Linked DNA regions of Homo sapiens. The protein of the gene in region 2 purifies or fractionates together with the protein of the main gene of each other region. This does not show direct contact. Each region holds a gene or a part of one and is shown on either strand. Other genes may lie near its edges. The genes, in order: CALML3, OR51E2, DSG4 and HEPHL1.

Region 1 (6,520 bases), on a different chromosome or scaffold from region 2:
TAACAGTAGCTGCCATTATTAAGCACCTACTACATGCCAGGTGTGTTAAGAATGTTGTTCTGGCTCCTCACAAGTGCTGGAGAGAGGCGCTACCGTAGTTACCATGATGGAGGCACAGGTTGGTGTCAGACCTGTAGCTGAGTGGTCAGGGCACAGACCTGACTGAAATCCCAGGTCTGCCTCTTACCCACTGGTGGGACCCAGGGCTGCTTTCTAAAGCCCTCTGTGTCTCCACTTCCTCGTTTGTAAGATGAGGAAGGTAATAATAGTGGCTGCCCCATAGGGAGGTGCCAATTGTCTATGCAGGCCAAGTGCTTGATGGTGCCCTGAGCCCAAGCAGGTGGCATGAGGGTCCTGTCATCCTGGAGGTCCCAGTGGTGCAGTGATGATGGCAAGGCCGGGGCTGGGGCCCAGCTCTTTGTTTTACAAAGGAGGAAACACTGGGTGTTGGTGGGCGGGGGTGGGGTGTCAGGGAGAGAGGATACATCCACCATGGCCTTTTCTGATGAGCTCCGTCTAGTGCCCATCCCGCAAAACATACCTCCCTTTAGAATTGAAGGGATCTCTGGCAGGGCCCCTTCGACCTTCTCTAGGTGTTGCCAGCAGCTTGCAGGGCTAGTGCAGGACTAACGGCTCTGAATTGCTCTTACACTGTGTGTGCCCAACTGCCCCCCAACCCCTCACCATCTCTAGTGCCTGGCACTTCACAACCAGGGAGCACTTGCCAGGGGGAATCAAAGCAATCAGCAGGTCCCTTCTCAACGTAATGGACTCAGGTCTTTCAAGTCCTGATGGACTTTTAACCACTCTTTGCTGCCAGCGTATCCATTTGATTGAGAATATTCAATATTTCCCTCATCCAGACTTGTCTCTCTCTGAGGCACCTTTCCCGCTCCCCCGTATAGGAATTCATTGCATTTTCAAAAAGCACAAAAATGGAGATTCCTGCCTCGTTTCAACCCTGAATTTAACAAGGATCATTTCCATGGAAACCAAAAAAAAAAAGGAAATGAAATAAGGACGAATATCTCATTTATTTCCCTGCAGCTCTCATCCCCTGCTCATCCAAGCCTCCCTCCTTCCAGATGAATAGGAACAGGTTACAGCTGACCCAGTTTCACTCCCAGCTTCAGAAGATGAATCACGGTGGGTTGGCGGACAAGGAATGGGGCAAGCTGGGGCAGCGCGGAAGGCAGTGCTGTTTTCAGGAGGCCTGACCTCTGTGGCCAGAGTCCCCGTCAGCACCGCTTACTGCAGGCCAAGATGCCTCCCACCCTCCAGAATCCGACCGCGGAGGGAGCTTCCAGTCCAGGAGCCTGCGGGAATCCTGGCGGGGGCTGAGGGCTGCAGCCCCCCTGGCCTGGGCATTGGGTGCCTCTTAGGGATCTTGCCTGGGTGCCCTAAGGGGTCACCCGGTGTCCGTCCTGGAGGGCCGCAGAGTCAGCGCAACCTGCCCTGGTGCTCGGTCCTAAGGTCAGCTCTGCTTCTCCCGAGTGGGGAGGGCGTCACGGTTTGCCTGCAGTGGGAGCGTTCCGTGTCATTCAGACGAGCAGGTGGGAAGGTCGGCAGGAGTGCAGAGAAGAGACGCGGGAAGCGGGATGCAGAGAGGTGGGCTGAATCAACCAGGCGCAGGAGGAAGCCACAGTGCCCAGGGGAGGCAGGGGGATGGGGGAGGAGGCGGGAGGCCCCGGGTTCTTGCCCTGTGGGCCGCGTGGGCGCCCAGGAGCATGGTGGGCGCCGGCCTCACTTGGACACCAGCACACGGACAAACTCCTCGTAGTTCACCTGTCCGTCTCCGTCCGTGTCCGCGGCCCGGATCATCTCGTCCACCTCCTCGTCACTCAGCTTCTCCCCCAGCCGGGTCATGACGTGTCGCAGCTCGGCGGCGCTGACGAAGCCGTTGCCGTCCTTGTCGAACACGCGGAAGGCCTCGCGGATCTCCTCCTCGTTGTCCGTGTCCTTCATCTTCCTGGCCATCATGCCCAGGAACTCGGGGAAGTCCACGGTGCCGTTGCCGTCCCGGTCGATCTCACTCATCATGTCCCGCAGCTCGGCCTCCGTGGGGTTCTGGCCCAGGGACCGCATGACCGTGCCCAGCTCGCGGGTGGTGATGCAGCCGTCCCCATCCTTGTCAAACAGGGAGAAGGCCTCCTTGAATTCTGTGACCTGCTCCTCAGTCAGCTGGTCGGCCATGCCAGGGGTGGGGGCGTGGGTGGCAGAAGAGGCCACTGTGGGGTCTCCCTCCCAGTGCCGCAGCCCGGCTGCTGTCCCAGCTCTGGGGTGGCAGGTGGAGATCCGGGCGGCCGGCGGGCTGTCTCGCCCTGGCTTGAGACGCTGGAGCTTAAGAAGCAGCAGAGTCCTCCCCCATCATTGGCAGACGCCCCTGCCCTGCGGTTGCCCGGGCCTGTCCTGTTTAGACAGGAGTCCAGGGCCTGCGAATCGAGCTGACGCCAGCACCTCTGTGCCTGCTTGCACCTGGACCCAGCAGAGCCACGGGGGCCCCGAATCACACCTGCAGTCAGGGCGTGGTGGGTGAGCTTTGGAGCAATCCACGCTGGACTCCTTCCTCCTGAATTTCCCTTTCTCTCCTCCCTCCCCGTCTCCCACCTGCCGCCTGTCTCCCACTCAATAAACTCCAGTGCCCTTTCTTCCCTTGAGTGGAGGGCTTTTTGCAGGATGAAAGGCAGATGAAAGAAACGTCCTTGCCTTTGGTTTCTAAAGCCTCATATAGAACAGGAGGGTTTTTGGAGGAGGAAGGTTTTCCCTTCAGGTAGAAGCAGCGAGTTTTCTTATCTTCAGAATGGACATGAATAGGGAGGGGTTTCCTCCAACCCATTCACTCATCCACCCTTTCACAGATATTTGAGTGCCTACTAGGTGCAGTGTCACTCTGGAAGCTGGGAACACAGTGGGACCGGCAAGCCACCCCCAGTCCTCGTGAGGTTAACTAGCAAGACAGCTAGTTTGCAGGTCAACTGATCGAGGAATGCAAACAAGGTGACTAGGGATTATTGATAAATGCTGATGGACATACAAGGTGGTGATGGACAGGACCCCGAGGTCACCTTTCAGCCTGGTCAAGGACAGACCTCCTGCTGAGAAGCAGCTGTCTAGGCCGGAGTGGCCATGGCAGGGCCAAGGGCTGGAAGATGATCAGTGGGGCTGCAGGCCTGTGAGGGAGGGGACAAGGAGGAGAGACAAAGGAGACCTTGAAGGGCTCAGCCAGGAAGTCCCACTATCATTCTCTGGTCCACATTGCCCCAGGAGCTCCGGGCAGCATGGAGCTGGGGCTGTGGAGCGGCCTCTCCCAGAGGAGACCCGCTTAGGGGGATAGTGGGGTGTTCACAGCACAGACTCGGCTCCCACTCCCAGGGGGCCTGGAGACATGACCCCCAGAGAGGCAGGAGCAGGCGCTTCACCTGTGGGAATCCAAGAAATCCACACTGGGGGAGAAACATGGAGCCCACTCTATTTTTTGCTGGGTGTGTGGGGGTGGGGTAGAGACCGGAAAGGGAAAGAAAGTGTCCTTTTGAGGACCTGGACTTGCCGAGGAGAGACTATGGCAGGAGAAGGGCTCGGATATTCATTTTTTTTCTCTCTGATTTTCCTTCCCTTCTCTATTCAAGTAGAGGCAAGTGTGTCCTTCTGGTCTGGAGGGGGTCTGTGGTAGGGGGAAAATTGAAGCCACCTGCAAGACACCTTCCTTCCTACCTGAGGGCTCCCACAAAGCCTGTGTCCTGAGGGTTTGGGCAGGAGGAAGCAGGAAGGTTGAAGAATCCCTCCATCCCCATGGAATCTTTTCCTTAGAAGAGAAGTTTGTGGACCCCAGAGCAGCAGGGCTCAGGGATGTGGTGGCCACAGGCAGCCTTGGCAAAGAGCCCTGGGGCCCAGGGGTGGCGTGGAGGGAACGAGGTGATGGGCATCTTGGAAGCCACGTGTGTGGGTGACACTTTGGTGACCAGATCCCACCCTCCCCTCCTTTCTCACCCCAGAATATTCGGCCTTGCCTGAGACCTCACACCCCAACAGCTCTAGGGGAGTGGGGAGATGGGCTGGCCAGGACTCCCTGGGGTAGGAGAGGGGCTGATAATAAAGTTTAGATTTAGAGAGAAAAATGAGGCAGCATCTCCATTTGCAGGCTGGGAGCATGCCCTGGGCCCAGGTTACAGCTCTGTCCACAGGGGGCTGCGCAAGAAAGAGTGTGTGCTTTGCTCCTGGGAGCCCCGCCCTTCCTCGAATATTCTGGAGATCTCTTTTGTGGTGGGGAGACCCAGCAAAGGCTGCACACACAGCTTGCTCAAGGTCACCCCATGAAAAGTTCAGCTGGGGATCAAGGTCCCTTTTTTATTTTGGGGTTTTTTGGGGGCTAATTCTGGGACATGGGGACCTTCTGTCACCTTCTGAGAAGGGCTCTTGATTGTACACTGGTGCCTGATGCCTGAGTGTTAGAATTCATATCCCAAACGCACTTTAAAAATATTTAAATATCTCCGCTCTAGATCACCCGAATACCCAAAAATAGCAGGTTAGTAACAAATACCTGAAATTTCCTCCACACCATGAAATAATACACAGCCTTTAAAATGAGGATGAGGATATAACAATGGAAAGGTTTCCATGGAAAATTTTTAAAAAGCAGATAGAAAACTGTATATGTGATATGATTTCATGTATTAAACATTTATATATGTTTATTTATATACATTCACAGAAGAAACGCCTAGATAATCATGTACCAAACTCTTAATAGTGGATACTTTGGATAATAGGATTATAAGTGCTTTTAATTTTCTTATAAATGTAGTATCTTTGCTCATTTAAAAATGTTTTATATTTGCCATATATCATTTCTATTATTAGGGGAAATGACTGAAGATTCAAAAACCATCCCTGATAAAAAATATTCCATATCTTACTGAACTCCCAATATTCTTTCTCTTTCTCTGAGGTTAGGTAATGTGGAGGGCCTGGTAATATTGTCAGCTTTATATCTCTCAGAGATATGAGACTATGGTGAGCATAGCTATTATTATGTATAGAAAAGCAGAATAATTAATAGCCAATAACCACACCCCCTATTTGACTGCCAGAGTGACCATCTAGTGGAAAAGATGCTATGAAGCATTTTTCTTCTACTTTCCCTGCCTAGGGGCTGGAGAGACTTCTTCATGAAGGAATACAGGGACAGTCACAGGAGACAGGAGCACCAAGGGATTCGGACATGTGGCTGACACAGTCTTCTGGAGAGCCCCGGATGGCATCAGGGGGAAACCTGGCCTGAGACAGTGCCCTGATGGACAAGGACAGGAATACGGTCATACCTCCTGCCCACTTGACCAACGACCAGGATGAGAAGCCAACAGGTAACTGCTGGTTTCTGGGTCATGGCTCTGTGGCTCAAACATTAGCTTTTACCTAAATGTCCTTCTCAAAAAGGCACACTGAAAGAGGACTCAGTGCCAGGTGCAGTGGCTCACACCCATAATCCTACCACTTTGGGAGGCCGAGGCAGGCCTGAACTTGAGGTCAGGAGTTCGAGACCAGCCTGGCTGACATGGTGAAACCTCTACTAAAGGTCTCTACTAAAAGTACAAAAATTGGCCAGGCATGGTGGGTGGTGCCTGTAATCCCAGCTACAGCTACTTGGGAGGCTGAGGCAGAAGAATCACTTGAACCAGGGAGGGAGAGGTTGCAGTGAGCCAAGATCGTGCCACTGCACTCCAGCCTGGGAGACAGAGCAAGACCCTGTCTCAAAAAAAAAGAGGACTCAGAATTTTAAACAGCGTTGCTTAGTGCAAAGTGACTCACAGAGGACCAGGACCGCCTTACGATGGGCCATACTGTTGCAACTCGCTGGTTGGGAAACTGTGACAGAGGGAATGTTTTTTATTTTCTGTTTAACTCTCTCCCTGCAGCCTCTCACCCCAATATAGCAACTCCTTTCCCTACAGAATAGATATTATTTTGGTCTCAGGATACATTTAAACATTTAAAAATTATTGGGGACTCCAAAGAGCTTGTGTTTATGTGGGATATATATATATATATATATATACTGTGTTTGCAACTAAAACCAAGAAATATTTAAATATTTAAGTATATTTTTATATATTTATAACTTAATAGAAATAAACCCATTACTTGTTCACATAAAACCATATTTTTCAGCAATCCCATTACTGGGTACATACCCAAAGAAATATAAATTGCTCTATTATAAAGACACATGCACGCGTATGTTCATTGCAGCACTGTTCATAATAACAAAGTCATAGAATTAACCAAATGCCCATCAATGATAGACTGATAAAGAAAGTGTGGTACGTATACACCATGGAATACTATGCAGCCATAAGAAAGAACGAGATCATGTCCTTTGCAGGGACAGAGATGGAGCTGGAGTCCATTATTCTTTCAAACTAATGCAGGAACCAGATACTGCGTGTTCTCACTTATAAGTGGGAGTTAAATGATGAGAACACATGAACACAACACACACTGGGGCTTACTGGAGGGTGGA
Region 2 (6,919 bases):
TGTGTCTGTGTGTGTCAAGAAGAACTAGTTCCAAGAATGTTAACAGAATGTATGCTTTATAACTGTGTGAAGTTTTGATGGGTAAATGTGAGTTTATAAGGATGAAAAACAGGGGAAGTGTGCTTTTGCAGTGCCGTTGATAAAATGAGGAGAGACATGAATGAAAGAATAACATAAGCCAGTTTGTTGGATAACTACAAGAGAAGGGGTATATCGAAGTCTTAAATGTGAGGCTAGGTGCTGTGGGAAATGAAGCTAGAGAAAGCACCAGAGGTCAAATCATGAAAATCTTGAATTCCATGGACAGTGTAATGAACTTAAATTTTTGCAGAGCATCAAGAGCCAGACATTTCTAACATTTTATTCACCTTTTATTGACCACTGGAAGCAAGGAGCTTTGCTTTTAATAAATAAATCATTTTCCATCTCTTCTCATTTAATGCCAACAAAATTCCTTTCCCTCTTTAGTATCTTGTTTAGTGCCATTGGTTGCTTTTTTGAAGTCTGCAATACTCAAGTTTTACTCTAACTCAACAATAAAAGCTTCCCACAGTTTTGTATAGATATTTCCAAACAATTCATTTCAACCAGGATATATTGAATAGTTTTCATAATTAGCCTTGTGCTTTGATAGTGAGGGATACAAGACATAAGCCCTGTTTCTCTCTCAATTTCCTGCTGTATCTTTTATAAGGATAAAAATTCCTTTGGAGAACAGTCTGCTTTTGTTTATTATTCCTTCACCTTCAGTAACAATCTGAATTCTTTCCCTAATGACTCTGAAAATCCTCCAAATGATGTCACCCGTGATTTTCTACATGCCAAGTCCAAAAGTTTAATCTCAGATTTGTTTTTCTCTCCCTCATCTCAACTTTCAGCAATGTTTACCTCCTCCTCCTTGAAACTTTCTCCTTCATTAGCTTCAGTGATGGTTATTCTGTGAGGTTTTTTTTTTTCCTGTTTGTTAAACAATGGTTTTGTTCTCTGCCTTATAAATTGTGGGATTCTAGAGGAGTCTGCTTTTCTCCCAAGAAGTACCTCTTCTTTTCTTGCTTTTCATATGCTCTCCTTGAGATATCTTGGTTATTCTCATGGCTTTAAATAGCACTTATATCCAGAAGACTCATAAATCTGCAATCTAATTATGGCATCTCCAGAGTTCTGTATTTTAAAAGTTAGCAGAATCTTTAACGCTGTGGCAAAGTTTCTGGTTTTAAGCGTAAAGGTAGTAATGAGACATGAAAATACAGTGAAGCAATCAAACCTGTAATTTAGAAAAATAATTGACAGCATTTTGGAGAACAAAGCTCCTTGCTGCATGTGGTGAATAAAAAGTAAATAAAATACTGTGGCTACCCCTGAGGGACATCTCTACCCATCATCACTCAGTTACTTCAACTTCTATATGAGACAAATGGAACTCATTCTCTCGTCCCCTCCAAACCTGGCTCTTCCTCCTGCTTCATTTATCAGCAAACGACATCGAACTCTAGTAAATCATTGAATTAAAATTACTACCCACCACACACACACACATGTGTGCACACACATACCCTCCTCTTTCTCTCTCTCATCCCTTACATATAAAGATTAGTTTTTAACTGATTCTACTCCTGAAATGTAAAAGATGAGAACCTCGGGAGGTCTATATAAGAAGGCCAAGCAATTGTTAGTAGTGGGTATTTGCAGCTATTATTTCATTGCATTTTTCTTACATTGAAAAAATCTTAAGTGTTTATATTCAAGACAAGAGGGGGACTAATGAATATCCTTAGAAGGAGGCACTAAATTTCCCCCAAGCTTCTCTTTTGTGCTGCCTTCACTCTAGAATCTTTCCGACCCATCCTCTCCAATCCATATATACTTTCATTTTCTCTCTTGTGAAATAAGCTATATTCTCTCAACTAATTTTTCTGCCCACTCGGATTACAATGATGCTCCTCTTTCATTGCACTATTATAAGCTATAGCTTGTGGCTGTCTTAATCTGCTGAACTAGACCTTATAGTGTCATCAGTATTCTCCATGCTATTGTCAATGGTATGGCTATCATGTGTGACTGACCTGGGTTCAGATTCTTGCTCAAACACTAACTAGTTTTGAGACCATCTACACCATTAATAAAAATATTACTCATAGAAATAGCTACCATTTACTGGACACGTGTTCTGTGAACATTATTGTCCTCAGTGCTTTATAAGCATTATTTTAATTCTTACTATGTCATCATGTGACAAGTATTATTAGATTCACTTTAAATTCATTTTTCTGGTAAAGACACTGAGTATCAGAAGTCTGAAACATATTTGAAATCACATACAACTGGTGAAAGTCAGAGCTGAATTTTTAACTCAGGTCTTTTTAATTCCAAAGCTCGTGCTCTCAAAAACAATTGTTTTACTGAAATCTACAAGTAATATAAACTTTCTGTGACCCAGTTTCCTCATCTATAAGACAGGATATGCGCTGTGTCTAATACCAGTAGCTGGCAGGCAATGCGTTCGAAATTGGTAACTTTTCATTTTTAGTAATAGTTATTGGGCATAGAAATGAGATTCACTGACTGTGATAAATATATCAGCACACTGATTAAACCATTTGACTAAAAACAAGTTATCTAACCTATATCAGGCAGAACGAAATACCCATTCTCTACGTATTTCCTGGGAATAAATAATTCTGAAATTCTACCGTCCTCCTCAGCCCACCATACCAACATCTAATCTAATTCTGCACATTGTGAGGAAATTACTCCCTGTGGGTGAGAAAGTCCAATTCATCTAGAGTCAAGCATTTTCATTGAACAAAACAGTTTTACTTACAGAGCCCATACAGCAGTTCGGCCTGTTCCTTTCAGGCTGACTCAGAAGGCTGAGGAGGCTTTAGATTCCAGGGGAGGGCCGAGCTTGCAAATATGAGGAGACTTATTCCAGCCTGACTGGAGACAGGCACAGAGCTGAAAGGCCAATTCCTGGTGGTGGTGCTAACTCACTGTGTCTTCAGGGTGTGGAGATTCCCAGAAGACTTCTTTTGCCTCATACAGTCCTTTTATATCTGTTCCATTATGCAATTACTTACGGTGGCTATGTGCTTTATGGGCTGATGTAACCTTTTTTTCATGTGTCATTTCACTCAAAAGCTTTTTTATTTAACAGCTTTATTGTTATATCATTCACATACTATAAAATTCACCCATTTATAGTGTATGATTCAATTTTTTTTAGTAAAGTCACAGAACTGTGCAAGAACCATCATCACAATTCAATTTTAGAACATTTTTTATTACCCTTAAAAGGAACCTCATAATCACTAGCAGTCACTCTGAAGGAGATTTTAAAAAACGAAATATTGTAGCAAATTGCTAAATGACATCTCCCATTATGAGTGAGAGTCCAACTCCACCCCTTAACTCCTCAGTATCTATGATTATTCACAGCAGTATGGTTTCATTAGCCCACCTGTGGTTCTTTGCAGCAGCAGTCTTTCTCTTACAGATAAAAAATAATTCATTTACTCATCCATACATATATCCAGTAAATATTTCATAAGAATGTCCCATATTCTAAACATTATACTCAGTGATAGAGTTTTTTTTTTTAAGAATACACCATAATTCTTACTGTTTAGGATTTTAGTGTAGAAGATAGACAGGTTAACCAATAATTACATGTTAACCAATGATAAGGTTATCCTAGAGGCATGAACCAAATGCTTGGTGAATACAGTAGGTAAAAATCTTGGTTCACAACTTACTTGTGTATAAAATACGGTTTCATTTACTTTTTTATAATTTGACCTATTTCGTATTTTGAAGTCCCAACCTACCAGGTTGAAGAGAATTAGTCACAATAATTTGGGGTTCTCTCTACTTATAGTCAAATTTTGAAAATCTTGTATTATACCAAGAAAAATTGCAGGTAGGTGGGTGATTGACTTGGCCAATGATGTCACCTTCTGTCAGTTTACTATCACTCTCATTAGTCTTTAATAAATAGAATGCATAGATTGCTATAAGTTGTCCATCTTTTCTCCTTATGGCCTCTTTAGATCCTTAGATATTCCCACCAATTTGGACCACACTTGGGCATATGGGTCTTTGATTCATTCTCAGTTTCTGTCTCTTACACCCTGCATTTAATCCATTGGTAAATTATGTCAATCTCTTTGAAAAATACAATCAGAAATTGATCACTGTTTATCATCTCCAGAAATGTCACCTTTATTTAAGTCACAATTATCTCTCACTTGGGTAACTTCAGTAGTTTCCTAACCATTCTCCCTGCTTCCGATATTATCTCCTCTCCACTATCAAATCTGTTTCACTACTGAAAATGTCATGGCCTGAGATATTTTCTTCTTCATAATGTAATAAAAACAATAAATAACAAGAACAATAATATTTTATTATGCATTCTACATCCATGATACTAGGCCAAGTGTTTGTGGTAGACAGGATAATGGCCCCTAAAGATACCTATGTCTTAATGCCTGGAACCTGTGAATATGTCACCTTACATTGCAAAGGGACTTTGCAGATGTGATTAAAGTTAAATAACTTGAGATGGCAAGATTAGATGGATTAGCTGGGTGGATCCAATATAGTCACACGGGTCTTTAAAAGTAGAGAACCAGAGAGATGGCAGCATGAGAAGGATTTGATCCACTGTTGCTGGCTTTGAAGATGGCAGAAGGAGGCTACAAGCCAAGGAATGTGGAAAGCCTCCAGAAGGAGAAAAGAAGATAATTGATTTTTCCCTAGCCCCTCCATAAAGAAATGCAGCCTGGTGATTCCTTGATTTTAGCTCAGTGAGATCCATGTCAACTTTTGACTTACACAACTCTACAATAATAAATTCAGTAGAAGAATCCATTATTAGTTTGATTTATGTCTTAAACCATGTTTAAACCAAAAATTAGAGTGTAAGTAACTTACCTAAGTTTCTCAGTTATAAATGGCACAAGTAGTATTCAAAGCCTCGGCTATCTGACACCCTCTCAGTTTTCAAAACTCATTTTCTAAACAGTCTTCACATGACTATCCATTCACCACTACTTTCAATTTGAGTCATCTACACCCAAAAGCCTGCATGCATGCTGATGTGCCAAACTGAATGTTAACAGGTTGTCACTTGTGCATGCTTATTCCTTGCACATAAAGGTATTTTATTGTTGTGTTTCCGCACAGGAAACTTCTTGAGACCTTTGAAAACACTTTCTCTACCAAGTTGGGCAAATTGTAGGGCTGTGACTCTTTTCCCATTAGTCTCAGAAACTATTTGGGAATAGTCACATATTTTTATTCTTATGGTTGAAAGAATGTTACTCTTATAAGAAAAATAAAGTTACTATAGTGGTACCATGTAAATTCTGTGCCAGAGCTTAGTACATGAAAATGAAACTAGTGTGTGTACTGGTTAAAGCACCAATACACACACTGGCACACTACGTCAAAATATGGCTCTTCTCACTGCCCTATTCTCATGCCAGCCTAGCAGAACAGTAGCTGGTAATTTAACTAAACTTTCTGAAAATTTGAGTTCAATGTTCCTCCATGAAATCATACAGCAACACATCTTATTAATACATTAATATTAACTCCATTGAGTCCAGGAAACATATCATAGTCTGTGATGTCATTTGACTTCATATTAATGTTTCTGAAACTTGGTAATCCAAACAGGAAGTACCAAATTGGACATAGGAAAACTCTGCACTAGGAACTTGAAGTAAGTCTTATTTATTGACTGTCAACATTTACTACGGTAAACAGTAAAATATTCTTGGCTATCAAATCAGCAAATGTTTTTTAAAACACATAATACATAGTGTTGTGTTGCTGTGTTACAGTGGACTAAGCATTGTTTTACAATGTTTGCATGAACTTTCTGGAAGCATATTTTCCAGTATATTGTTGTCTTAAAATGTCCATAATATTCCATTTCTAAGAATTTATTGAAAGGAAGATATCAGAGATGCAGGCCATATTTTATGTACAGGAAAATTTATTGCCCCATTATTTACAGTGGTAAAAAATATAGATAAAAATTCTCAATGATACAGAATATATAAAGCATTTATATCGAGTCCTGGGATGTTATGCAACCTTTAAAATTTGTGCATATACCAGCTCAAGTGGATGGTCATGCTTGATCAGGAAATAGAAAAACAAGTTTCAGGGCTAAGACTAGCACAAGGAGCAAACAGTTTAAGATATAAAAGAAACAGGGTTTGATACAGGAGCAAGAGGCCAGAGGCAAAACAGGTAATCCAGGGTTAATGCATTGAAATTGTAGAAATAAACTTAAAAGAGAACAAACAATAACAACAGCAACGAAAACGGGTTGCTGTGTGTTACTGTTTGAATATGTCTCCCATGTTGGAAATTTAATTCCCAAAGTCATATCTTGATTAGATATGAAGACTTTGGGAGATAAGTTGGATCAGATAAGGTCATCATGATGGGACTGGTGGATTTATAAGAAGAAAAAGAGATCTGGGCTGACACAAATGCCCTTGCCCTTTTGCCATGTGATGCCCTCCACCATGTAATGGCAGCACAAAACCTCTCTCCAGAGGCTGGCACCATGCTTTTGAATTTCCTAGCCTCCAGAACTGTGAGCTAAATATACTTCTTTCCTTCACAAATTACCTAGTATTTGGTATTCTGTTATAGCAAGAGGAAATAGATTAAGACACTAAGTCAAAAACCATTTTGTTTATACTACTGTTCAGAAAAATTATTAGAACTCCATATGGCCTACTAGCCCTCCATGGTCTGATGAAAGCCTCACTCACCTCTTTTCCTGGATCCAGCCATGTTGGATTTAGCAGTTTTCCTACCCCGTTGATATGGCTAACACTGACCATTCAATTTTGGTGTATATAGAAATGTCACTCCTCCTTACCTCTCCCTGTGAACT
Region 3 (7,029 bases), on a different chromosome or scaffold from region 2:
CTGTAGAGTTATATTCTGGGAAAATGTGTCTAATATCATTGTGAGAATCACTCATGATCTTTGCATAGCTTTGAAACCTCACAGATTATTTCAAAAAAGAAATCCTCACCAAAAGTCAGCTGTTATTTTTTATGCCTTGAAATGATTACATTTTAATTAGTGCTCATCCCTGAAAACAGCAACAATACAGTTTGACAAATTTACTTCTCTTTAATTTTAGAACCCAGCTTTTGATCCCCATGAAACCTAAATATTGCAAGGGCAACCTAAAATGTATGAAGTATTCTTCCTCTGAGGATCTATATGTTTAAAAAAACTCTATGGGGAAAGGAGGGCCCTTTTTGGGAAATTTTTGTTTGGTGATCTTTCCACTTCTGTGACCAGTCTTAGTTTAGGCACTCACCCAGAGCCCAGAGGCTAATTCTCTGTTCTAGTCTCTTCTACTTGCTTCCTACCGCAGGGTCACCTGCGCTCATCAGCCCTCATCAACTCTTCTGTGCCATTGTACTGAAGCCCAGAATGCCTGGTGTGTCATGAACATGCCTCCATGCTGGCTCCCAGACTCCCTTTTGCCTCTCTGCTTCCTAGGTGTGCTATGCTCTTCCATATCTTGCTCCCTTTTGTTTGTGTGTGTGGTTTTTTTTTGTGTGTGTGTGTTTGATTACCTTTCAAATTTCCTTAGACATCATCCTCCTTTAAAAGAAATCCTCAGCAGGGTGCAGTGGCTCATGCCTGTAATCCCAGCACTTTGGGAGCCCAAGGCAGGTGGACCACGAGGTCAGGAGTTCAAGACCATCCTGGCTATCATGGTGAAACCCCGTCTCTACTAAAAGTACAAAAATTAGCCAGTCGTGGTGGTGGGCGCCTGTAGTCCCAGCTACTCGGGAGGCTGAGGCAGGAGAATCATTTGAACCTGGGAGGCAGAAGTTGCAGTGAGCCGAGGTTGCGCCACTGCACTCCAGCCTGGGCAATAGAGCAAGATTCCATCTCAAAAAAAAGAAAAAGAAAAAAAGAAAAAAAAAATCCTCAGCTTTTCAGGCTCACCTCAAAATCCACTTTTCCAAAAGATTGTCCTAACTTTTCCACATGGACTTAATTGCTTCTGCCTCTCTACTCTTAAAGCATTTTAAGGAAATTTCCATGATGGGATTTGTTTTGTGCTTTTAGGTAGTATATGTAGTGATTTGCATGTGTTTCCCATTTTTAGGACTGTCACTCACCCTAGGCTTTCTTAGTTATCATTGTGGATTAAGCGCATATATTTGTCAGTCCCATTGTTTATTTCTAAGGCACTCAAAAATTGCTAGAGATACCAAAAAGAAATGGCTCCATGAACCTAACCATCCCAGCGAGCCTCGTAACAGCCCTATTTTGAAGAACTATTGAAAAGAAGGATTTAATTGAGTACTTACAAATCAGTAGCAGGATGCCCAGAACCATCATGCCAATCCCTGCTGGTCCAAGACCAACATTTGAAACTCCAGCTTGGTCTTCAGTGACAGGCCCATACGTGTCACCAGTTATGTCCTCTGTGTAGATGCCCGCGGCACCAGAGTCCAGGCACATGTGGTTGTCATCGCAATCACAGGCATATAACTGCACCATTTGTGCCAATTCACATGCTCTGTTATAGCTGTCCTTCACCAGGATTGGGATTTCATAAAATCCTGGAGATAAAACCTGCTTAGCCGTAAGGATTGCCGAGGTAGCTGAAATGGAAGAGAGGAAACAGAAAATAAATGGAAATTCCTTGGTGGGCTAGGGGGGTGGTTAACTCTCCCTAATACCAAATATTGACTTAAAACACTAGATTTTTCATGCTTTCTTAGTCATAAAGCACCTTGTACTTTTTTTTAACATTTATTTAATTTATTATTATTATTATTATTCTTGTTATTTTTGAGACAGAGTCTCATTCCTATTGCCCAGGCTGGAGTGCAGTGGCACGAACATGACTCACTGCAGCCTTGGATTCCTAGGTTTAAGTGATTCTCCCACCTCAGTCTCCTGAGAAGCTGGGACTACAGGTGTGTGGCACCATGCCTGGCTAATATATATACATTTAGTAGAGACAGGGTTTTGCCATATTGCCCAGGGTGGTCTTGAACTCCTGGGCTCCAGCAATCCACCTGCCTTGGCCTCTTAAAGTGCTTGGATTACAAGCATGAGCCATTCTGCCTGGCCTTTTTTACTTTTCTTTCTTTCTTTTTTTTTTTAACATTTATAACTAATTTTTAAATAAGTATTGCTTACTGCTGGATTGCTACTTCTATAATGCAGGCAAGGACCTTGCTGCATCTTTCCAGAGCAACAGTAATTGGCATATAATATACATTCAATAAATATTTGCCCAATGAATAAATAATATTGAGCTGAAAGAAAATATTAGAAGTCTTCTATTTAGGATTACAGTTTACACAATACCCTCCTTAAGACTGTTTATATGTATCTTACTCAAAATTGTTGCCCTTTCATTTAAAATTGTTCACATTCTCCTAATTCTTTGTGCTATCATTGCCTATGAATTTTCATAAAACATATTGTCTAAAATATTCATTGGAATTTATTTATTAATACAAGGAGTGTTGAGATGATTAAATTTACAGCTAAACCATGAATAGTAACTGATTGATCCATAGCACACAATATTTTTTATTATGATGGTTTATTATCCTCAGTTAGCTAGATGGCAAGCCAGCTATGTCCACCAAAATCTAACCTGTGCACAAGGTAAAAATGAGATAAGGCAATGCCACAGCACATTAAGTGAAATTCATTCTGTTCTAAAACACCAGCAAGCATTGAAACAGGTCTCTAGGAATATCATCTCCAGTGTGGTTATATTTTTTATTGGCAAACCTGTAATAGCTATAATATTATACCTCCATGCAGAACATTTTTTCTTACATGTGTAATCATAATATCTAGGATCCGAATGAGGAAAAAAGTGGTTAGCAATTATTATTGTTTATGAATGGGCTATTGAGCTTTATAGGAGATGGTGAATTCAGAGTTGACTTGATATTAATGGAATTGCTTTAACATGATTAACTTTAAAAAATATTAAAGTGGTTTTGTTGAAAAGAGCTAAAGGTTTGATGGTAAAAACAAATTGCCTAATTTCTTACTTTATTGGTGGTATTTTCCCCACCTTATTTTAGGGTTTCTCCATTCTGTAAATAGAGGGGCTTGGTGACCTTAAAGAGGTGGGAAGTATTTCCTCTCACCCTGGGCTCTGTAGTCTGATGGCCACCGACTAGCCCATGAAATTTTCCCTGTAGCCCCAAATGAATATGAGATTGGGGAGCTATCTTAGCCCATATGAGATCCTCTCATAGCATTTTCTTTTTTATTATGCACTTAACGTTTTAGGAAAAAGAACGCAAGGTAGATAAAATGTTATGTTATCTGAAATTTATTCTTAATTTTTATCGATGTCAGCCATTCAATTGTATGTAGTTATAGTCAAGATACATACATATACAACTTCGTGATCTGTTTTTCACTTTACTTTCTTTGGTTTATGCATTCTTTTGTATCTACATACTTTGCATAATTCTAATTTTAATGGCTGTATATTAACACATCTTAATAATATGTACTCTGTTTAATCATTCCTCTAATACTGAGCAATTTGGATTTAAATTTTTACCCTTAAAAATAAGTCTGAACTCATAGTTACTGTAAAAAACAATTTAATTGATTTTATGTGCTCCTAAGTGAGTAGTAAATGTTTAAATGTATCTATGGGATATATGAGTTTCAGAGACATTTATGTGATTTGTCTGAATTTATTCAGAATAGGGAATTGTGACATTCTTAATTTATGAGTTTGTTAAGGGTTCTGTTTATTTTAAACTGAATAAATATTGGTTCAACGTTTTACCTACTCAAAATGATGGGTAAACTGGTATTTATCCACTACTATTTGTAAATTAAATATTAATGAAACATTTTGACTCATTTCATTTCAGTTCAAAATTTTATCAAATATCCTCTGTGTACATGAAATATTTTTTTCATTTAATGTTAATATGGCAAGAACTGTGGAAACAGAAGTAGAATGTTTTATTAAGTGACTTGCCACATTTTTTGGTAATTGTTTTGCTTTTGGACTTAAAGTCCAAAAAACAAGCTTACGTTTCACTTACCATTTGTTGATCTGACATCCCACATGTCAGCTATTCCTGGTGGCTCATCAACAACACAGAAAGTAAACGGAGACCCATAAGAATGTTCATTAACAGAGATAAGGACTGATGGAGAGTCAATGCAGATGGTTCTTCTTTCAGGAAAAATGTTTGGACAATAATCATTGATATCAGGAACCTCAATACATATGGTTCCTGTAGCTGTTTTTCCAGAGCCATCTGAAAGAGTAAGGGTCATTGGTGTTGAGGTAAATGGTGTTAGGGAGAAAACTCTTTCTCATATCCCCTGATGATGCCATGGAACTTGTAGGAAACATATACGTGACTTGGGAGGCTTGACAGGTTCCTGCCCGCTTCAGTGACCCAAAGTCACTCTTCCCTTTGTGTGCTACCTTCCAGCCACACTGCTTCTTTTGAGTTCTTTAAACAAGTTTCTTTTTTACTCTGGACTCTGGCACATTCTTTTCACCCTTCCTAAAATGTTTTCCACCCTCATTTCATTTTGCTAATTCTGACACATCCTAAGGCGCAAAATCAAATGTTCTTCCTCCGAGAAGGTTTACTGGTTTCTAATCTCACCCTGTTCCCATAAATTAGACCCCCAGGTCAGTTATGAACCTCCATTCAGGATGCTCACTGAGTCCTGTGTTTGTAGAAATAACCACAGCTGAAATAAATACTTGTTTGTGTTTTTCTTGTGTGCTCACTGTTTATTTTAATTGCATCTGTTACATGCTATTTCTTTCTGAAATGGCATTTCTGAAAACAAATATAAGTCTATTAGATTTTTCCCTAATCCACTTGAAACAAGTTTTTGGATAGTATAATTAATCAGAAAGGGCCAAAGACTAAAGATTAGGAGTCCAGGAGCTTTTTAGTCCACTTTTCTACTCTATGTTCTGTTACAGCGAATACGGAATTTTTTTTGCTTCTTTTTAACTTGAAAAGAATCTTAGCTTTCTCGCTTTTAAACTAGAACGTTGTCGTCTCTGGGGTACCTTACTAGGTCCTTTTCTGAGAAAGCAATAAATTCCTTTTACAGATGTTTTCTGTGTGCCTAAGTAGTAGTCATTGAGGTAACTGAATGAGAATAAACTGAGAGCCTACCTATAGTCTATATGATTTTGTATAATATGTTTATATACCCTATTCAGCATTGGACTTGTTTTTACTAGATGAAGGATGTCGATTTCACTTAGCTTCTCATTCGAGAGGCATCAGATTATTCCACAGATTGTTTTATTTGTCATTCTTTGATCTTTGGTAGCTCTTCTATTACCTTGTGATTGGCAACCAAAGCTCAAGCTATTGCTTATAGTGTTTGCTTCCCAGTAAAGTTTGCTCTGCATAGAGGTCTGTCTCTTCACCTGATGATGGTGTGTGCTGAAGCAAACTTATTCCAACCATTCAGATAGCTCTGTGCCAGTGCAGACACTCTGCTTAGGTGAATAAACAATCAGCTTTGTTTCTGGGTTTCTCTTGGTACATTTTGACAGCACTTTCTCTCTCTTTATTTGCTTGGAATGACTAATTATTTATTCTAGCATTTGAAGATTTTTCACATATGACCAATATGCAAACATAGGGTGCAATCAACATGGTTAGAATCCATTTTCAAATTAGAGCTTCCAGAATACTGATAATGAATAAGACAATGTTATTTATAAAACTGACCCAGGCGTTAAAATTTACCCGCCACAGGATGAAGCCCAGGATGTACAGATGATAGTTGGTTTGGTTTTATCATGGTTTCTTTTTGAATTTTATGCTGCTTCTTTATCTTTATTTTTGTTTTGATACTGGAAAGGTCAGCTATAAACTCAATGCAAACCTACAGTATCTGTCTTACATTAGGCATGTATCTTGGACGCCTGTCTTTCCCCTTCCTTCGTGGTTCCTGACCTTTGTCTCTTGTTTGGTTCTACAGCAGCTGGTTTCCTAGGCACTGCTTCATAGAATCATTAACTATTGATAAATAAACAAATCCTGTTGCTGCTCACCAAGAGGACTGCTTAACAGATTTACCCATGTGAGAGGTGGCTCGCTTACAAGTTAAGTCAGTGCATCTGTATTTATGACTTTTAATATGGATCTTATATTTGGAATAATCTGTGCTTTCTTGGTCCATAGCATCTTACTATGGAAATATGTCTAATCAAGCAACACTCACACAAGCTTCTCACTGTAGTTCAGTTTTAATGGATCTAAAATAATTGTATTCTTGGAGACATTGCTTTCCCACAAGGTGATCCCCAAATGAACTTTGTAGAGCACGTAGCCCTTACTTTAAGTAAACATTCCCAACATACCCTACAAGTGAGATTAGCCATACTCAAGAGACAAAGTCATAATCAGAAGATGAATTATATTTTAACTTTTATGCTGTAAGCCATATACAACTCAGTTTTGGAAGTAGATGAAATAAACTATGGCTTCAGTGTAAATTATGATTTTAATTGACTTCAATTCTTGATTTAAGGTGTTTAGGGCTTTCCATAAGTCTTGCATACACCATTAAAAATGTCTGAGTCACTCAAATATCAGCATTAGAATAACATAATATTTAATATAATAGTACTAGTTTTCTTAAAATACTGAAAATAAATTTTCTTACCATCTATAGCCAGGATCTCTGCTGTGTATATCCCATTGATAATATATTTTGACTTCTTATCAAATTCTCTAGAAAATTGTATCTCACCAGTTCTTGAATCAATTTTTAACCAGCTGCCTGCATCATGCCCTATGATATATCTGTTTTTAAATAAAAAAGTTCGTTATCATGCTTTTATGAAAGTTAGTACTTTTAAATCATGTAACAGCTACAATGTGGCAAACTTTAATATTGTGTTTTTATGTTTTATAGTGATGATTGCCT
Region 4 (7,466 bases), about 89 Mb from region 2:
ACTCTAGGGATTACATTTCAACTCCCTTCTTACACAAATTAAGGAAAGTGATATTCAGAGAGATTATATGACATGTTCAAGATTACACAGCAAGTTGGGCAGAGCAAGCATTAGAAGTTAGGTCTCTGGATTTCTATTTCAGGTTCTTTCCATTCATGGTGGAATTCTGAGCACCTGGCTCTCCTGGTCCTTTAAATATCAGACATTTGCCCAAGTGTGAATATCCAAAACAACAGACTGTCCTCAGAAAGGCAGCCTATTCACCCTCCAGGAGGCTGAGAGAGGGGCATGATTACATCATCCACGATGGCTCCTTCCTGCTCCTGGGGAAATGGCACAACACAGAGTACACACACTGAACTCCACTTATGTCCCAGTCACAGCATCTTCACATACACCCAGGATGGATATCTTGTGGTCCACAAGCAATGTCAGCCACCTACGACAGCCCTACCTTTTTAGGAACTTGTCTGAGCCACCTACCACAACTACTAGCACTGATGGGATCACTGATAAAAACCAGTATTCTGATGGGATCACTGATAAAAGCCAACGTCCACTGCATACTCACCTGGATTTCCCTTCCAAGAGGTAGCAGTCTGTCTGACACAAACTCTGTCCCTTCGCATACCAGAAAGAAATGTTTGGGGACCTTGGCGTTCTAGGTATGACACCTTAGCATGCCAGCTGCTTCTAAGAACAAACGCACTATCATATGGGACCATGCATTTTGAAACCATCTCACTCAAATCTGATGCCAAACCAACTGTTTTCATCATGCCTATTTTCTTTTTCACCATAGCAATTTTTATATGTTTTATTGTACTTTCATCAAAGCACCATCTTCTGGTTGAAATGATCAACAGAGACCCCAACTTCTTCCAGCACCCCACTTTGTGAAAACAGCATTGTAGTACTTGAGTATTTATGATTCTTTGAGGTTTTGAATTAACCCAGATAACTTGTTTGGTCACTGACCACCAGTGATCCCTTTCAATATGCTTCTAGGAAGAGTGACAAAAGAGACTAAACATGCCTTTGGCAAAAATTAGGACTTTCTAGAAAGTTCTTATTACTGTGATCCTTGGCTTCCCTCAAAGTTGTTTTAATTCACTGGAGAAGGATCACCTTTACCAAGAAACAGATTGTGTGGTGAAAAGAAATATGGGCTGTGGAACCAAAGCAATGAGTTTGGTGCTACCACTTACTTATAAACTCCGGCAAGTATTTAACCTCAGAGCCTTGGTTCCTGGTTCATAAAATGAGAATAATAATATCTGCAAGCAGTAATGAATTGAAAAATCCCTCATAGAATTTTTGGGTCAGAATAAATGCCCATACACAGCTATAGTGACGTGGGCATTTTAGGAAGAAGAATTTCTGTGGGTGTTAATCTTATGGAAAGGCAATCCAGTATCACATTTAGCTTAAACGCTATATTCATTACACTCAGTGTACACACTTTCAACATTCTTATCCCCAGTAGCTGCTCACATTGACTGTTTCCTACTGAGCCCTCTCTGAGAATAGCAGAGCTCTATTTGTAGAGAAGGCTCCTGGCATTTTTGGTACCCTTTCAATCCCATAGCTATTCATCACAGTAAAGACACTACCACCAATGGTCAGCAGATGTGGGATTGAAAGCAATCAAGAGTTTCCTTTGGAAATAGCCCTGCAGACATTACATTTCCAGGTACAAAGCTTAAGGAAAAGTCTGCCTTGGCAGCTTGTCTGGCACAGGCTTCATCTTTGGTAAACAAAACATGACTATACCACCTTTGTTTTGTTAGAAAACTTGGAAGCTGTATTTCCAAGCCAACTGGATCTTTGGTCTTTCCTCAAAGACAAGGGGCCCTGGCTCTTAAAGACTTGCTGGTAGGCCCTGTGCTGTTCCTGAATTTTATCAACTAAACTCATCTTTAGGAAATGGAACATGGATGCAGAATGCAACTGGTTCTGCCTGTCAGAAAAGAAGCAAGCATTCAAATATCCAACAGAGGTTGCCAAAACATCTGAAAAGATGTTCTAATAACCACAAAGTTGAAAATAGCATGACATCTTCTGGAGTCAGGAGGTGACTTCAGAGGGAGATCCATGAAACAAATTAGATGGTTAAGATACTAGGCCCTGGAGGGGGCAGGGAGAAAGGGTTATTTTCTGCCCCAAATTAAAAATCAGGAACATAGAACACCGTGGCGCCATCTCACCTAGCTATGCTATAGGTTCTGGGATAAGATATTGCCCTCAGCAAGAATGACTTGGAGCTGGAATAAACTTTTTACCAGTGAAAGCGCTAATTCTAAGTAGACTCAAGGAAACCCTGAAAATAGCAGGCAAATCTCCTGTGACTTCCCCCTCTTTTAAACGTTGAAAAACATGACTTAGCATACTTATCTCCCATTATGATGTTTCATTCCAGAAATACAAACTAAGAAAACACTGTGTTTTAACCATAAGGAATTCTTGAAATTTCTCAAATCTTCATCCCAAGTGTTGTCATTTAAAAACAAACAAACAAACAGAATCCCCCAGAAGTTACTAGTAGTACCTGGTGGAAATTGTCAAACACCTGGTTGTGTATATGTCCCTTCACAGGCAAGGCTATTAATAGGTGGCTCAACAAATACATGGAGCTATGAATATCTCTTCCAGATTACACACCCATCCATACTAGGGCTCTTCAAGCAAAAAACAAAACACCTTCTCTTGGTCTAGATCAACTCACCCCCATTGTAAGTACCCAAGAAATACAACCTTCCCCACACAAAGTCAAAAAGAGGCCAAACCTGGGAGTCAATGAGGACCCTAAGTTCACTCACTTGTCTTCTGTGAAACTTTTCCCAGTAATAACATTCTTCCCTTGGGGTACATAGTTCCAGTATTCTTCCACAATCCCAATGTAGTACGTTCTGGTAACTGTGCCAACCAGCCCAGACAGACCCAGGAATGTGAGGAGAAAGATGCAGCCAGCTGGCTGCTTCCGAGGCATTTGTGGATGTAACTCAAGCAGGCAGGCAGCCTGCACAGGGGACAAATCTGTTGGTCCCTCCCCCTCACTCAGCTCCTCCTCCTCAGGTAGCTTGGGTTTGGGGAAGAGGCAAAGGCTGAGGCCTTGCGTAAGCAAAGCAAGCTCGATGGGGGCGTTGCTTTGACAACAAAACTTTTGCCAGCCATCCGAGAAATGTGTGACTGGCTCATTTATGTATTGCCCAAGCCAACAGGCCTGTTTCTATACGTTTCGGTACCATGCTCTGACATCAGTCATTTGTCAGCCAGGATGACAGTGTGACTACTTGAGCCGATGGCTTTCCCCCACCCCTTCTTCTTCTTTTCTTCTCCACACCTCTTACATTAAAATCTGAAAAGTGAGCTGGCCTGAGTGGAGCATCAGGAAACACTCCAGGCACTAAAGAAGGCCTCCTCTCTGTCGGGAGGGCAGAGGAAGTGACATAATCACCATCCAGCTTGTTTTATGAGGCTATGTGAAACCACAAACTAACATCATAAAGTTCATCACAACAACATAAAACCCCACTAATCCTCCACTGGCTCGTGTACCATCTCCCCCATATTCTCTCAAATCCTTCCAGCAAAAATGAGAAGGTTGACTGCTCAGTTCAGCCAAAATGTTCGCGGCCACCACCTCCACACAGGGAGCCGCCTTTCTTAGGATGAATGAAAATGATGATGGGGAAGTACCCTTCAGACACATGGAGACAAAATTCAGTAACAGGTCTTTGGGTGGAAAAGGCTGGGCCATTCTTCTGTGTCTTCTAATCTGTGTCCCAGAATCTCGGTATTGAAAGAGACCTTGATCAACCTTGGAAAAGAGTTACTCTTATCCCCATGCACAGTTACTCTTGAGGGAGCAGCCATGGAATGAAGGAAACAGCCTCCTGGCCTTTGAAGTTGGTCAGACCTGGGTTTGAATGTGAGTTCCCACCACTTTCCAATTTAGTGGCATGGAGGAATCACTTAACATCATTGAGCTGGAGACTATAGAAGAAGGATTGAGGGATTCTTAAGGAACTTTTTAAAAGATGATGTCTGCAAAGTGCTTACCCCAGCCCCTAGCATAGGGTAGGTACTAAGTAAGTGTTAAAGTCCTTCCTGCCCATTCATGCCCTCTAAGAGAGACTGTATCAACCTGTGTATCCACAGACTTGTGTTTCCCCGCAGTCTTCAACTTTCTTTCCACTATTCTTTGCCAAAGTCCTATCTGCCATGCCTTCCACCAGTCTCAAGTAAGAGAATTCTTTTTCTTTAAATGGTAGCTACCCTATAAATGTCCCATAGCACAGTTTGTATTAGCATTCATCTTAATTAATAAAAGGCCAGGCACGGTGGCTCAGGTCTGTAATCCCAGCAATTTGGGAGGCCAAGGCAGTCAGATCACCTGTGGTCACGAGTTTGAGACCAGCCTGGCCAACATGGTGAAACCCTGTCTGTACTAAAAATACAAAAATTAGCCGGGCGTAGTGGCAGGCGCCTGTAATCCCAGTTACTTGGGAGGCTTAGGCAGAAGAATCGCTTGAACCTGGGAGGTGGAGGTTGCAGTGAGCCAAGATTGTGCCACTGCACTCCAGCCTGGGCAACAAGAGCAAGATTCCTTCTCAAAATAAGTAAATAAATAAATAAATAAATAATAAAATACATACTGAGTATCCTGTTTCATAGCCAGGCTCTTTACAACTTTGATTTACTGATTTGTTTGTTGTATCAAGGACACTGGTAGAATAATTGCCACAGCACATTTCCATTTAGCTAAAATCTCCTCTTCAACATGAGTTTGGGAGCTTCGTATGAGTCTGGCACTTCAACGGACACTATAGAGGAGGACTTACGTGGTAGGCCTGAGGTTGGCCTCAGAAGAAGTAGGGAGTTCAAAGTATGGGGAATCTGGCCAGGCGCAGTGGCTAATGCCTATAATCTCAGCACTTTGGGAGGCCGAGGTGGGTGGATCACCTGAGGTCAGGAGTTCGAGACCAGCCTGCCGAATATGGTGAAACCCTGTCTCTACTAAAAATACAAAAATAACCCGGGCATGTTGGTGCATGCCTGTAGTCCCAGCTACTAGGGAGGCTGGGGCAGGAGAATCTCTTGAACCCTGGAGGCAAAGGTTGCAGTGAGCCAAGATCTCACAACTGCACTCTAGCCTGGATGATAGAGCGAGACTCTGTCTCACAAAAAAAAAAAAAAAAAAAAAAAAAAAAAAAAAAAAGGTTGTGGAATTTGGAAATGTCCCAAACCAAATATCTTGTTGCTTACATCCCAGAGAAGCTGGCTATTTTGGGCGTATCAAAGACGTTATTAGGACATATTCCCCCCTTTTTGGACAGGAGAAAAAAAAAGGTATAAGTGATACAGCTCAAAAAGACAAAAGAGTTAACTTTCTTACCCAAGATACTGAACGCATATAATTAAAACCCAGGAGAAGGCATTACCTAACTTCTGATTCAAAAACTAGATCTGCAGAATAGATCAGGTCAAGAAATCTGAGTCACTATAGCAGATGAAGTCAACGCATTTAATCTATTTGTAGCAGAGAACTTGCTTACAGAGGGCCAAAAGTGGGAAAGAATTTATTAAAAACAATGAAATAGGGTTCTGGAAAGCTCTCTTAAATTCTTCCTTATCCTAGGACAATAAAGGTGTTACTCAAAGAGCATTGGAATGCCATAGGAGCTAAAGAAAATAAACTGGTATGAGACAATGCAGTGTTCCTGTGACACTCATTTCAGAAAAGCGACAGTTCCACGCCCAATGTGTTTGACAGTGTCTAAATTTTATTAGGAAACCTGTGAATTATCATATCAACACTCATTTTTAAAAACCCACAGTTACATACAAGATATGTTTGACAATGTTTAAAATTTGATTAAGTAACCTGTGTAAGTAATAATGTTAGCAAATACTTCCAACTCCATTGAACACTAGTCAGACATTTTTTTAAAGTCAAGAAACCCATTTATCAAGCATTTATTATGTGAGATGGCCAGTTCTAAATATTCACTCCATTCCTCAAAACATTCACCAGGTTTCAGATAAGGTAAATTTGACATCATGCATCAATAGCAGAGAAAGATAATGCTGGGTTAAATCACATTTTATTGAAATTATGGTACAGGCACACCTTGAAGATATTGCAGGTGTGGTTCCAGACCACCATGATAAAGTGAATATCAAAATAAAGCGAATCACATGGATTTTTTGGTTTTCCAGTGCGTATAAAACTTATGCTTAGGCCATGTACAGTGGCTCACACCTGTAATCCCAGCACTTTGGGAGGCCAAGGTGAGAGGATCACTTGAGGCCAGAAGTTTGAGACCAGCCTGGGCAACATGGCAAAACTTGTCACCATAAAAAATACAAAAAAATTAGCCAAGCATGGTGGGGTGCACCTATAGTCCCCGCTACTCAGGAGGCTGAGGTGGGGGGATCATTTGAGCCCAAGAGGTCGAGGCTGTAGTATGTTAAGATCATGCCACTGCACTCCAGCCTCACTGACAGAAGGAGACCCTATCTAAAAAAAAAAAAAAGTTATGTTTACACAATATTACAGTCTATAAGTGTGTGTGCAATTGCATTATGTCTAAAAAATGTACACACCTTAATTTAAAAATACCTTATTGTTTAAAAATGCTAACAATCACCTGAGTCTTCAGTGAGTCAGTCTTTTTGCTGTGGAGGGTCTTGCCTCAATGTGGATGGCTGCTGACTAATCAGGATGGTGGTCACTGAAGGTTGAGGTGGCTGTGGCAACTTCTTAAAATAAGAACAATAGTTTGACACATCATTTGGTTTCCTTTCATGAAAGATTACTCTATAACCCATGATGCTGTTTAATAGTATTTTACCAATAAAAGAACTTCTTTCAAAATTGGAATAAATTTTCCCAACCCTGCTCCTGCTTTATCAACTAAGTTTATGTAATATGCTGAATCCTTTGTTGTCATTTCTACAATATTCACAGCATCTTCACCAGTAAATTCCATTTCAAGAAACCACTTGCTTTGTTCATCCATAAGAAGCAACACCTTATTCATGTAAATTTTATTATGAGATTGCAACAATTCAGTCACATCTTCAGGCTCCACTTCTAATTGTAGTTCACTTGCTGCTTCCACCACATCTGCAGTTACTTCCTCCATTGAAGTCTTGAACCTCTCAAAGTCATCCATGAGGGTTTGAATCAGCTTCTTCCAAACTCCTGTCAATGTTGATATTTTGACCTTCTCTCATGAATCACAAATATTCTTAACAGCATTTAGAATGGTGAATTATTTCCAGAAGGTTTTCAATTTACTTTGCCCAGATTCATCAGAGGAATCACTATCTATGGCACCTATAGCCTCAAGAAAGGTATTTCTCAAGTAATAAGATTGAAATTCAGTTACTCCTTGATCTATGACATACGGAATGGATGTTGTGTTAGCAGACATGAAAACAACATTCATTTCATTATA

What was found.
Region 1: the proteins of OR51E2 (region 2) and CALML3 purify together in Homo sapiens (affinity purification with mass spectrometry; 2 studies listed by BioGRID and IntAct, with this or other methods). This does not show direct contact.
Region 3: the proteins of OR51E2 (region 2) and DSG4 purify together in Homo sapiens (affinity purification with mass spectrometry; 3 studies listed by BioGRID and IntAct, with this or other methods). This does not show direct contact.
Region 4: the proteins of OR51E2 (region 2) and HEPHL1 purify together in Homo sapiens (affinity purification with mass spectrometry; 3 studies listed by BioGRID and IntAct, with this or other methods). This does not show direct contact.

Annotation. Positions count from the first base shown.
Region 1 is NC_000010.11:5,520,759-5,527,278, reverse strand, and holds CALML3 (calmodulin-like protein 3), read right to left. Parts: upstream 2,319-6,520; 5' UTR 2,194-2,318; coding exon 1,744-2,193; 3' UTR 508-1,743; downstream 1-507. UniProt on the Homo sapiens protein: May function as a specific light chain of unconventional myosin-10 (MYO10), also enhances MYO10 translation, possibly by acting as a chaperone for the emerging MYO10 heavy chain protein.
Region 2 is NC_000011.10:4,694,832-4,701,750, forward strand, and holds the start of OR51E2 (olfactory receptor 51E2), read right to left. Parts: upstream 3,023-6,919; 5' UTR 2,831-3,022; coding exon of another isoform or gene 2,822-2,830; intron 1-2,821. Other genes in the region: olfactory receptor OR51C1, read right to left, coding at 2,822-2,830. UniProt on the Homo sapiens protein: Olfactory receptor. Activated by the odorant, beta-ionone, a synthetic terpenoid. The activity of this receptor is probably mediated by G-proteins leading to the elevation of intracellular Ca(2+), cAMP and activation of the protein kinases PKA and MAPK3/MAPK1.
Region 3 is NC_000018.10:31,400,757-31,407,785, reverse strand, and holds part of DSG4 (desmoglein-4 isoform 2 preproprotein), read right to left. Parts: intron 6,906-7,029; coding exon 6,766-6,905; intron 4,371-6,765; coding exon 4,152-4,370; intron 1,710-4,151; coding exon 1,413-1,709; intron 1-1,412.
Region 4 is NC_000011.10:94,016,892-94,024,357, reverse strand, and holds the start of HEPHL1 (ferroxidase HEPHL1 precursor), read right to left. Parts: upstream 3,005-7,466; 5' UTR 2,990-3,004; coding exon 2,820-2,989; intron 1-2,819. UniProt on the Homo sapiens protein: Is a copper-binding glycoprotein with ferroxidase activity. It oxidizes Fe(2+) to Fe(3+) without releasing radical oxygen species. May be involved in the regulation of intracellular iron content.